Linked DNA regions of Homo sapiens. The protein of the gene in region 1 purifies or fractionates together with the protein of each later gene. This does not show direct contact. Each region holds a gene or a part of one and is shown in the gene's direction. Other genes may lie near its edges. The genes, in order: PCDHAC2, RAB6B and DAGLB.

Region 1 (3,652 bases):
GAATCCGGGAGGCAGAGGTTGCAGGGAGCCAAGATCGCGCCACTGCACACCAGCCTAAATGACAGAGTAAGACCCTATCTCATAAATAAATAAATAAATATAAATAAAACACAGACTTTTGTGTTAAGGGGACCTAAACATGACTGTCAGCTGAACTCAGCAATCAGACAAGTAATTTAATCTCTCCAAAGTTCAGATGTCTCATTTTTGCAATTTAAGTACAATAATGTTGACTTTGCATTATAGTTCATTTATTTAAACACATTTTAAAAACCTCCCAGATGCCAGAAGCCTGCTAGACTCTGACTATATAGCTACGCTTTTATGAATATCTGAAGATATGCATGTGTCTAATGAGCAAAACAGATATAATCCCTTTCATAGAGTTTACTGTCTGACAAAGAAAGAATTAGGATACATGCAACAGTATGTAATAAAGTGCAAAATCTAGTACTGTGTAGCTACTTAAAACATATTATATGCTTTCTTCCTTTCCTTTTCCCTGCCTGATCTTACTGCCATAAGAAATCTTGTAACTGTGATTCTGTCAAATGAATCTAAGAAGGATGTTGTTGCTGATGGACTAGTATAGAAAATAGCAGCATGACAAATTAAATGTGTCATTGGGGAAGTGAGATTGTATAATGAACTGAGTTTCCTGGTCAGTCCTGCTGGAACTGTGCCTTTCAGCAAAATGAGTTTGATGATTTCATTCCAAAGATCAAGTTGCAGCAATTTTCATCATGAATGTTACCCAATCATAGAAAAATTGGCAACATTTCTCAGCAGATGTTACAGTCTTTCTCAAAGGAAGGTTCTCTCAGCTGACAAGCTAACGATAGTGCTCCTGATGGCGAGGGGAGAGACGGTGATGATGACTGATTGATAAAAAGTATTTTAGTCATATTTCCAGGTTTATAAAATGATTTGCAAACATTTTCTTTTGTTCCCTCTAACACCGCTAGTAGATAATGGAAACTCCTTTGATTTGGTCTGTAGATAATTTTATGCTATGTTATATGGAATATCCACAGCATTTTGTGAACTTGAAAACAAAGGAGGAAGCAGCTTGCATATGCATATCTTGCTAGCAGATTGGTAGAATAGAGAGAGCAGTTAGCATGTGAGGACCATTGAGGTAAAGTATCCCAGAGTTGTAACTTTTTCTGGGCCTTGACTTTGGCTAATTCTCTGCATGCCAAATATCATGTAGCCATCCAGAAATCTGTCTGAATATTGAGATGGTGATCATTTCTCTCCTGGGTGTTATGAAGAAATGTGTTTATTAAATACTTTGCATCCCTTAAAGGAACTATATGAATGATAGGAATAAGAATTATTGACAGTTTTGAATGGTCTATTGATATTACTATGGCTTTGTTTCTACCAAATATGGTAAGTATAATGTAGAGGAAAATACAAAATACAACTTTTATCCCCCATTTTTTTCATTCAACTATACCTCAATATTCAGTGACAGGGCCACCTCAATCTCCGCCCATGAAAACGCATCTAGAGGAGTGTCACAAGTTTTTCACAGTGACATTTTTGCTTACTGATACAAGACAGTGATGGTGACTGATGATGTCCCAGTGATTTCTGAGTAGCTTCTAACCAGCACATAACTCCCCCAACAGTCTTTAAGTCTTTAGGTGCCCATATTTTCCTCTTTGTTCTCCCCCTTCAGACTGAGAGTTTGTAGAGAGAGGGCAACAGATCTTTTCAATACACAACTAATGCAAAATGTATCAGGTTTTTCTTGGATTTCAGCTACTCCCTGTTAAACAATCAGAGCTTAGTGAACAGTGATTCAGTGAGGAGGGAAAGCACTCAGGAAGGAGCAGGAACAAGTACAAGTTTATGAAAAGGATTAGCTAGCAAAACAAGGTCAAACTCTGCAATAGTTTGTTTTCCTCTCCCTAGTATCCCTCTTCAATCAGAAAAGAGACTGTTATCAGTTGCTGGTGTTATGACTGGGCACATCCGCCCTGGGTCAAATATGCTGCAGTCTGCAAAGCCAGCAGCAGATTGCAGTCCTCTGCAGTCCAGCCAGGCCAGCAGAACTTGTGTAGCCATGTGCCCTGTTATAGCTGTAATACTGAATTGGGAATGTTCCCTTAATGGGGCACTTGAGGGCAAAAGCAGTGAAAGCTTTTCCTTTCTCAAAGCAGACTGTTCTTCCCGTAGTGTTTTAAGAACACAGACATGTATTGGGCAAGGCAAAGCCAAAGGTGGCCTTTACAAGATTATTAAATCTGGTCTTCCAGGGTATCTAATCTGTGTGAGGACCCTGATGAACTAATTTTCTTCTAAAGTGCTATATATGTAGATATCATCATAGAGTTACACATGAAATGGCTCATTCAATACTTTTTTAGATGCCTGGAAATATTTAAGGGAGTAACTAATCAATTAGCAGCATTCCTGGGAGAACATTGTCTTGTCATTTTAACAGAAAACTCTCTTTGTGATTTTGCAGCCACGACAGCCCAACCCTGACTGGCGTTACTCTGCCTCCCTGAGAGCAGGCATGCACAGGTATGTATTTCCCTCCTCATTCACTCAGAAGTAACCTTAACTTGGTATGGCTCAGATAAACTGCATCTCCATAGGCCAGAAGCAGCTGTCAAAACTAAAAAGCTTTAGGTACTTTGCCAGGAAAATGCAATTATTTTGTCCCCATGTTTATTCCTTGAAAGATCGCAAATGGTCAGTGCCAGATGCTTATCAAGTGCTGGCATATAAGAGTCCTCTGTAAAATCACAGAAACAGGCTGCTATGTATTTTCTCCCATCAAAATTTCTACAGGGAAGTAATTTCAACCTCCTTCATCCCTCTCTACCTATGCTTTCTTTTCCTCCTTTAAAAACTGTAATTAATACTCATGCTTTGAGACTTGGGTACATTGTGCAATGTATACATACATGTTGTCTACCTTGTTTTTTTTTTAATCTCACATTGGCTATTACATCCTATTACCCTCAATAATTGATTGCTATTGTTGTTTGTGTTCACACCTATTAGAGCCTCCTCATCTTTCCCATCTGTTGCTATCTTATTGTCATCAATGACATGGTTCTTCAGAAGATGAGCCATGTAAAGGGCTCCAAATCTAGCTTACTTTAAATTAACCTAGAGTAACGGTATTAGTCTAAGACTCAGATTAAATATAATTTTGCTTTCTCTACTTTGTCTCTCTGACAGTAATTGATTAACTACCATTATTTCTGGAGGTGATCCAGTATCCATGCCATGGGGCCAAATAAAAGATTCATTATTTGCGAATGTCTTTGGAAACCAAATGGGAAGGACCAAGAAACAAATGATCACAACTATCAAAAGGATTTAATTTTAAAGAAGAAATAATCTTCAAACTTAAGCCCCTCAAAATATCTGGGCAACTATCAAGTGAATATTCACCAAACTTAGATCAGTTCGTAAAGAGAAAGCCTACAAAGTATGTGTAGAGTTAATGTGAAATTAGTTTTAGCCCATTAAAATGCATTAGATTGAAATAAATTAACATACTCTCAAGCATTACAAATGAGCAGAAATCATTACATTGGGTGCTATTTCTGATTCAGAAGCAATCAGTGAAGGGCTGAAGATTAGTAGTTGGCTTGGTAAGATGTCACATTGGAACCTGGGTCAT
Region 2 (3,652 bases), on another chromosome or scaffold:
CTGGCCTTCTGGATGCAGTGATGGTTTGCCCTGTGTGGACAGTGCTGGTGGCAGTGGGGAAGGTGGGCTGGCAGAACGACAAGAAGAGACAAGAAGGGTGGAAGGGACACTATGTGACACTGGGGGCCCCAAAGCTCCAGGACTCAGTGCCCCACCCTAACTAGAGTGTCCTCATCAGGGCTTCACTCACTCCCATCTGTTCCCAGCCTCCCTTGGTGTGGGGCTGAAGCTGTCATGGTCCTTCCTGCTCCCTGGGGGCATGCAGGAGAGACTGGGCTGCTACTCTTTGGGAGCCCTAAAGTCATGGGAAGCAGGGAAGCAGAGGGAGGGCAGGGCAGCACCAGGAGGTCCATAGGGCAGGTAGCATCTGCCTCAGCCGTCAGGGTCAGGGAGGCACTGATGCCCCTACCCCCAGAGTGCTCTGGAACCCATGCAGTGGTTTAGCAGGAGTTAAATGTGGTCAGTTTCGAACCCTGTGTGGCTCAGAGGAGTGTCCATGCAGTGCAGACTCCTGGATCTAAATGTGAGCATATCCACTCACAGAAACCCATACCTGACCCTAGAAACCCATACCTGATCCTAGAGCACCCTTCAAAATCCCTAGTGGCATTTTGGCCACTAGTAGAGGCTGTGACTGTTTTGAGAGCCAGACAGGCAGATCAGAGCCGCCCAGGGCCAATGCCATGAAGGAAAGCTCAGGAAGGATGGCCTGGGCCCTTTTACCCTTGCCTACTAATGGCTACCCCACTGCAGAGCCTCCTCTGCAGCCCGCCCACAAGGGTCTCACACCATGCTGGGCCCACCAGCAGCTTCCCCCCTTGGGCCCTCATGGCCTTTAGCCCTGTCACCCAGCCCGGGTGCTCAGCTGGGGCTGGGCTCTGGGGTGAGGCCATGAATAAGACTCACCCTGTCTTCAGAGAGCTCATGCAGTGGAGGGTATGAGCCCAGAGCCCACCCAGTTCCTGCAATTCACATTTGTGAGGACAGCGGGAGTGCTCCTGGGTTAGTCCTTTCAGGCTACCGTAACAAATCACTATAGGCAGGGTAGCATATAAACAGCAGAAATGTATTGCTTACAGCTCTGGAGGCTGGGAACTCCATGGTCAAGGTGCAGGCATATTCAGTGTCTGGTGAGGGCCCATTTCCTCCTAGATGGCACCTTCCTGCTGCATCCTCACAAGGTGGAAGGGGCAGACAGGCTCCCTCGGGCCTCATTCATAAGGGCACTCATCCCGTTCATGAGGACTCTACCCTCCTGACTAAGCACCTCCTAAAGCCCCACCTCTTTATACTGTCACATTGGAGATTCTGTTTCAACATAGGAATTTGCAGGGGGACCGGCATTCAGAACCTAGCAGTTCAGAGTCTTCTGTGCCTCATACTTCTGCCTCGTACCTGTCACCTCCAAGATTCCATCTCTGCCAGCACCCCATCTGCCACTTGCCACCTGTCCCCTGCCACCCACACCTGCCCAAACACACACACACACACACACACACACACACAGAAAACCCACATGTACGCAGACACACACCTTACCAAGGACACACACTATGCACACATTCCCCCCACACTTACACAAACACACACATAAAGATGCCACACGTTCACACACACCACACTCAAACATTCCCCCATATGCTTACACAAACATACATGCACCTACCCACACGCACCACTCACAACACACACATTTTCCACGCAGTCCTACAGATAAAACACATACACTGTACACACACTCCTACACACAATAAACAACTCACACTCCTACACATCCAAACAAGCCCACAAAATTGTGTTCACACTCCTGCATCCCTCGCGCTCTCAGAGAAGCCTCACCACTGTGCCCATGCAGCCCTGGCCCTGCTGTTCGCTGCCTTGGCGCCGGACCTGCAGGGCTCCCCAAGCAGAGTCATTCATCTCAAGGGCAAGTCACTTCCCCATGCCTGGTCCCCATGAGGGCTGTTTGCAGAAGCCCACCTTAAGGCCTGTCACCCAGAGGCCCAAACCATTTTCTGCACCAGAGGAAGTCCCTTGCAGTCACTGCCATGACCTAAGCTCATCCCAGTGACCCTATGGCCAGTCTGCTTGGGTGAGAGGCCACAGCTTTGTTCCTTCCTTCCACAAGCTACTGAGGCCTGCCCAGACCCAATGCTGTGAGAGGTGGGGGAGAGAGAACATAGGCACAGCCCCTGCCTTTGAGGGCACCGTCCGCTGGGCAGATGGGAGAGTAAAGCTGCAGGTTGGGAGGGGAAGAGGGGTGAGGGTGCAGGTGCAGTGAGGAGCAGAGGGGAGGGCCAGGGTTGGGGTTCACACTGCATTTCTTCATCTTTCCAGCTTTTTCGACGTGTGGCGTCGGCTCTACCCGGAATGGAGAATGTCCAGGAGAAAAGCAAAGAAGGGAGTATCCTTTTCCTTTGACAAGTGAGTGAAAAGATGTATAGAAGCCATTTATTCACTGAATATGTTAGTGCAGTGGACAGACACTCGCCCAGTCCCCGCCCAGCCTTCCCTGGTCTGCCGCGAATGGCACGGGGCCTCCTCTAGGCGGGATGCAGCTGAACCCTATGGTTTGGAGCCCCCGTCTGGCTCTAACCATCTACTTCTTCTTCCAGAATAGCAGGAAGATACCAAAGGGGTGTGCACAGAGTGATGCTGTGGGGTGGGGAGTGAGAAACAGCGACTTTGCCCTTCTTTACAGCGAGCATGTTTATGGGTTTCATGAACACAGGCAGAGTCTCCACTGCAGGGAAGTCTCTGTCACTGGGGATATGATCTCAACGTGGTTCAGTCTACTCAAGACAGCTCCCCCCTTCAGACAGATGCCCCCTCCTTGTCCCGCCCACCTTCTCTACCCAGCCCTGAACAGCTCCTGAGGCTCCCCACTGATCTGTGGGACCATTGCGCATCACCCACAAACCAGCCCCAACCTGAAGAGACACCTAGATGCTGAAACTGAGGTTCAGAGAGGTAGTCTGGTTTGCCCAGTGTCACACAGCATGTAAGTTACAGTTAGGATTCACACTCAGGCTTGCTTCCTCCATATCCAGCCCTATTCCATGTGGGACACTGTCCCTCTAAGGGCATTTGAGAGAATCAGATGAAAACTGTTTCAGCAGGGGAAGCCATTGCCCACACCTGGGCCTCCCCTGCATCTAGTCAGATGTCCCTGCCTGAGTAAGCCACCAGAAAACAAGCATGCAGATCCCTGGCTGGCATCCTTTACAGTGGACCTGTCCCTACACAGCAGCTCTCCAACATCCCCCACTGATCCTATAGGCCTCTGAGGGTAGACATCCCTGACAGATCAAAGAAGGGCCCTGGGAAGATGGAAGGGCACCTTTGGGCTGATGAGAATCAAAAGCAAAAGAAGCACACAGCTTAATGTTGGAGGCCTCATGGAGCTGCTGGGGCAGGGCGGGCAGGACACCAGGAGTCCCAGGGCTGCAGCAAGGGGGAGCCTGACACAGGCCTGGAGGGAAGCTAGGCCTCTCCAGCCTTGCTCAAGGAGCTCTCAGAGCAGACTCGAGACCCACCCCCCGGGGGGGTCAGGAAGGCTCACCAAGGAGCAGGTGCCCCAGCAGTCCCACGGTCTGTGTGTCACCAGAGGACAAGCAGTGGCCGAGAGGAGGGGGTTTGAGGAGTATCTCCT
Region 3 (3,652 bases), on another chromosome or scaffold:
TTACATTCCCACCAGCAGTGTATAAGGGTTCTAATTGCCCAACGCTCTTATTATATGACTTGTTAATTATAGCCATCCTAGTGAATGTGAAGTGGTAGCTCATGATTTTGTTTTGTTGTGTTTTGTTTTGTTTTTTTGAGACGGAGTCACACTCTGTCACCCAGGCTGGAGTGCCATGGCGCAATCTCGGCTCACTGTAACCTCTGCCTCCCGGGTTCAAGTGATTCTCCTGCCTCAGCCTCCCGAATAGCTGGGGCCACAGGCCATTTGTTTTTTGTCTCATGGCTTTGAGGAACATTTCTTTGGTGACTAATGATGTTGAGCATCCTTTCATTTGCTTATTGCTCATTTGTGTATCATTTTTGCGGAAATGTCTGTTCAGATCTTTTGCCCAATTTTAGACTAGGCTATTGATCCTTTTATTTTTTATTTTTATTTTTTGAGATAGAGTCTCCCTCCGCTGCGCAGGCTGGAGTGCAGTGGCGTGCTCTCTGCTCACTGCAGCCTCCGTCTCCTGGGTTCAAGTGATTCTTGTGCCTCAGCCTCCCATGTAGCTGGGATTACAGGCACCCGCTACCACGCCTGGCTAATTTTTGTATTTTTAGTAGAGATGCGGTTTTACCATGTTGGTCAGGCTTGTCTCGATCTCCTGACCTCACGTGATCCACCCGCTTCGACCTCCCAAAGTGCTAGGATTACAAGTGTGAGTCACCGCGCCTGGTCCCTTTTATTTTTACATTGTGAGGGTTACAACTATTTTGTTGTTGTTAGAGACAGTGTCTTGCTCTGTTGCCCAGGCTAGAGGGCAGTGGCGCAATCATAGCTCACTGCAGCCTCAAATACCTGGGCTCAAGCAATCCTCTCTTCTCAACCCCCAAGTAGCTGGAAGTACAGGCACGTGCCACCATACCTGGCTAATTTTTTTTATTTTTATTTTTTGTAGAGACAGGGTCTTGCTATATAGCTTAGACTGATCTTGAACTCCTGGGCTCAGGTGATCCTCTCGTCTCGGTCTCCCAAAATGCTAGGATTACAGGGGTGAACCACCGCGTCTGATCACCTATTCTTCATATTTTTTATATGTGTTACAGTTTTCTGTAGATAACCATTTATCTGAGAATGTCTCCAGAAGTGTTGGAAACCTTCCCTGTTGGATTCCTCTGCTTCATAGGATGATGTGAGCACTGTGGTGACTAATAAAGGAATGCATTCTTAGAAATGATTCATTGGTCAGAGGCAGGGCTGTGTGACATGCCACCATCCGCCATGTTTTAGTCCTTTGTCACTGCTTGAATTGGGATGGACGAGGTATGCATATCAGATATATGCTGGTGGTGAGGTGCACTGGGAGGCGCTGGTGATACAGTGAGTGACGGCATCAAGATCTTGACAGTTTGGAATAAAGGACTGAAATGTAAAAGGTGTTAGCTCATAGGAGCAATGTAGAGGGTAGAAATGTTAGCAGCAACATCTTTCATGAGAAAAAGACCTTAGGGTTTGGGATGACCAGCAAGAGTGGCATGTGCCTGATTACCACAGTAACATAGAAAACAGAGCTCTGTGTATTTTATTTTACTTTTTTCTTTTGAGACAGAGTTTTGCCCTTGTTGCCCAGGGCTGGACTGCAATGGCGTAATCTCAGCTCACTGCAACCAACCTCTGCCTCCCAGATTCAAACAATTCTGCCTCAGCCTCCCAACTAGCTGAGATTACAGGCACGTGCCACCACACCCAGCTAATTTTTTTGTATTTTTAGTAGAGACAGTTTCTTTTTTTTTTTTTTTTTTTTTTTTAGTAGAGACAAAGTTTTTTGTTTGTTTTGTTTTGTTTTTTTTGTTTTTTGTTTTTTTTTTCCGGATGGAGTCTCGCTCTTTCACCCAGGCTGGACTGCAGTGGCACTATCTCTATCTCGGCTCACTGTAAGCTCCGCCTCCCGGGTTCACGCCATTCTCCTGCCTCAGCCTCCCAAGTAGCTGGGACTACAGGCGCCCGCCACCGTGCCTGGCTATTTTTTTTTTTTTTTTTGTATTTTTAGAAGAGACGGGGTTTCACTGTGTTAGCCAGGATGGTCTCCATCTCTTGACCTCGTGATCCGCCCGCCTCAGCCTCCCAAAGTGCTGGGATTATAGGCGTGAGCCACTGCACCTGGTCTAGTAGAGACAAAGTTGAACCATGTTGGCCAGGCTGGTCTCGAACTCCTGACCTTAGCTGATCCACCCACCTCATCCTCCCAAAGTGCTGGTATTACAGGTGTGAGCCACTGCACCCAGCTAGCTCTGTGTATTTTAGTATGCCTCTAGAAACATCCACGCAAGGAGGCTGGATTGATGGAGGCTCCACGTTTGTGTTGGCCCCCAAATGTAGGCTGTCATTGGTGCCAGATGCTTAAGGAAAGAAAGAAACCATGTGTACAGTGTGGCTTCAGCGCTGGGAAGCTTCTTATTGAAGGTGAAGTATTGAGACTGGTGTCATTTCAGATACAGCATTATCTAACTTATTTGCCCTTTTTTGTTCATCTCACATTCTGGTTAGACCACTGAGTTTGTGGCTGTAATAGCAGGGTCAGAGTGGAAGCAGTCGGTGTACTTTTTTTTTTCCTTACATGTTTGTTTGTGTTGAGATATTTTTGGTGTTGGGACGTCTTTACCTCCCTGTGAGGGATGCTCATATTCACTCCGTTCCCTCTTCCTAGACACTCGTACAATGCTTGCATCATCATGTACTTGTGGTCAGAGCTCAGAAGTCATCTGTGGGTTGTCGGAGTGTTCTGGGTTGTCTATCCCACAGCCTCCTCCAAACAGAACCCCGTTTTGTTTTGCCCCCATCCCACACATACCAAGTATGCGTCAGAGAAGCAGACCCTAGGCCGGGCTCACGTATTGGTGATTGGTTCAGGAATGGACACGTGACCCAGTTTGGCCCAGTGAGAGTCAGGGAGAGTTTGGTGGAAGGTTCTGGGGAAGTGCTTCCTTGCCCCTCTAGGAAGGATCCAAAAGCCATTTATCGTCGCTCTCCTGGCTGAAGCTGTGTCTCCACTCACAGCGCAGGGCAAGCTGACATACAGGGCAGGGGAGAGCTGGGAGAAGCACAAGGAGATGGAGGCTTGTCTCGGTCAGGGCAGCCCCGATGCCGTCTTGCTTCTGCACTCAGTCGCTCGAGTCATTGTGGCCCTTCCTGCTTTTCAGCCAGTTTGAGTTGAATTTTCTGTAACTTGTGGGTAGAGATATCCCAGCCAAACTGAAAACAGTATTTTATAAAAACATGTTCGTTTAATTGTCAGTTTGTTGCACATAACATTATATGCCTTATTAAAAATATGTATTGAAGGCCAGGCGCGGTGGCTTACACCTGTAATTCCAGCACTCTGGGAGGCTGAGGCGGGTGCATCATGAGGTCAGGAGATCAAGACCATCCTGACTAACACGGTGAAACCCCGTCTCTTCTAAAAATACAAAAAATTAGCTGGGCGTGGTGGCGGGCCCCTGTAGTCACACCTACTCGGGAGGCTGAGGCAGGAGAATCGCTTGAACTCGGGAGGCGGAGGTTGCAGTGAGCCGAGATCGCGCCATTGCACTCCAGCCTGGACGACAGAGTGAGACTCTGTCTCAAAAAAAAAAAAAAGAAAAAAATGTTTGTTTAATTGTCAGTTTGT

What was found.
Region 2: the proteins of PCDHAC2 (region 1) and RAB6B purify together in Homo sapiens (affinity purification with mass spectrometry; 2 studies listed by BioGRID and IntAct, with this or other methods). This does not show direct contact.
Region 3: the proteins of PCDHAC2 (region 1) and DAGLB purify together in Homo sapiens (co-immunoprecipitation; 3 studies listed by BioGRID and IntAct, with this or other methods). This does not show direct contact.

Annotation. Positions count from the first base shown.
Region 1 is NC_000005.10:140,976,470-140,980,121, forward strand, and holds part of PCDHAC2 (protocadherin alpha-C2 isoform 1 precursor), read left to right. Parts: intron 1-2,479; coding exon 2,480-2,538; intron 2,539-3,652. Other genes in the region: PCDHA1 (protocadherin alpha-1 isoform 1 precursor), read left to right, coding at 2,480-2,538; PCDHA2 (protocadherin alpha-2 isoform 1 precursor), read left to right, coding at 2,480-2,538; PCDHA3 (protocadherin alpha-3 isoform 1 precursor), read left to right, coding at 2,480-2,538; PCDHA4 (protocadherin alpha-4 isoform 1 precursor), read left to right, coding at 2,480-2,538; PCDHA5 (protocadherin alpha-5 isoform 1 precursor), read left to right, coding at 2,480-2,538; PCDHA6 (protocadherin alpha-6 isoform 1 precursor), read left to right, coding at 2,480-2,538; PCDHA7 (protocadherin alpha-7 isoform 1 precursor), read left to right, coding at 2,480-2,538; PCDHA8 (protocadherin alpha-8 isoform 1 precursor), read left to right, coding at 2,480-2,538; PCDHA9 (protocadherin alpha-9 isoform 1 precursor), read left to right, coding at 2,480-2,538; PCDHA10 (protocadherin alpha-10 isoform 1 precursor), read left to right, coding at 2,480-2,538; and 4 more. UniProt on the Homo sapiens protein: Potential calcium-dependent cell-adhesion protein. May be involved in the establishment and maintenance of specific neuronal connections in the brain.
Region 2 is NC_000003.12:133,833,327-133,836,978, reverse strand, and holds part of RAB6B (ras-related protein Rab-6B), read left to right. Parts: intron 1-2,337; coding exon 2,338-2,404; intron 2,405-3,652. UniProt on the Homo sapiens protein: The small GTPases Rab are key regulators of intracellular membrane trafficking, from the formation of transport vesicles to their fusion with membranes. Rabs cycle between active GTP-bound and inactive GDP-bound states.
Region 3 is NC_000007.14:6,441,391-6,445,042, reverse strand, and holds part of DAGLB (diacylglycerol lipase-beta), read left to right. Parts: intron 1-3,652.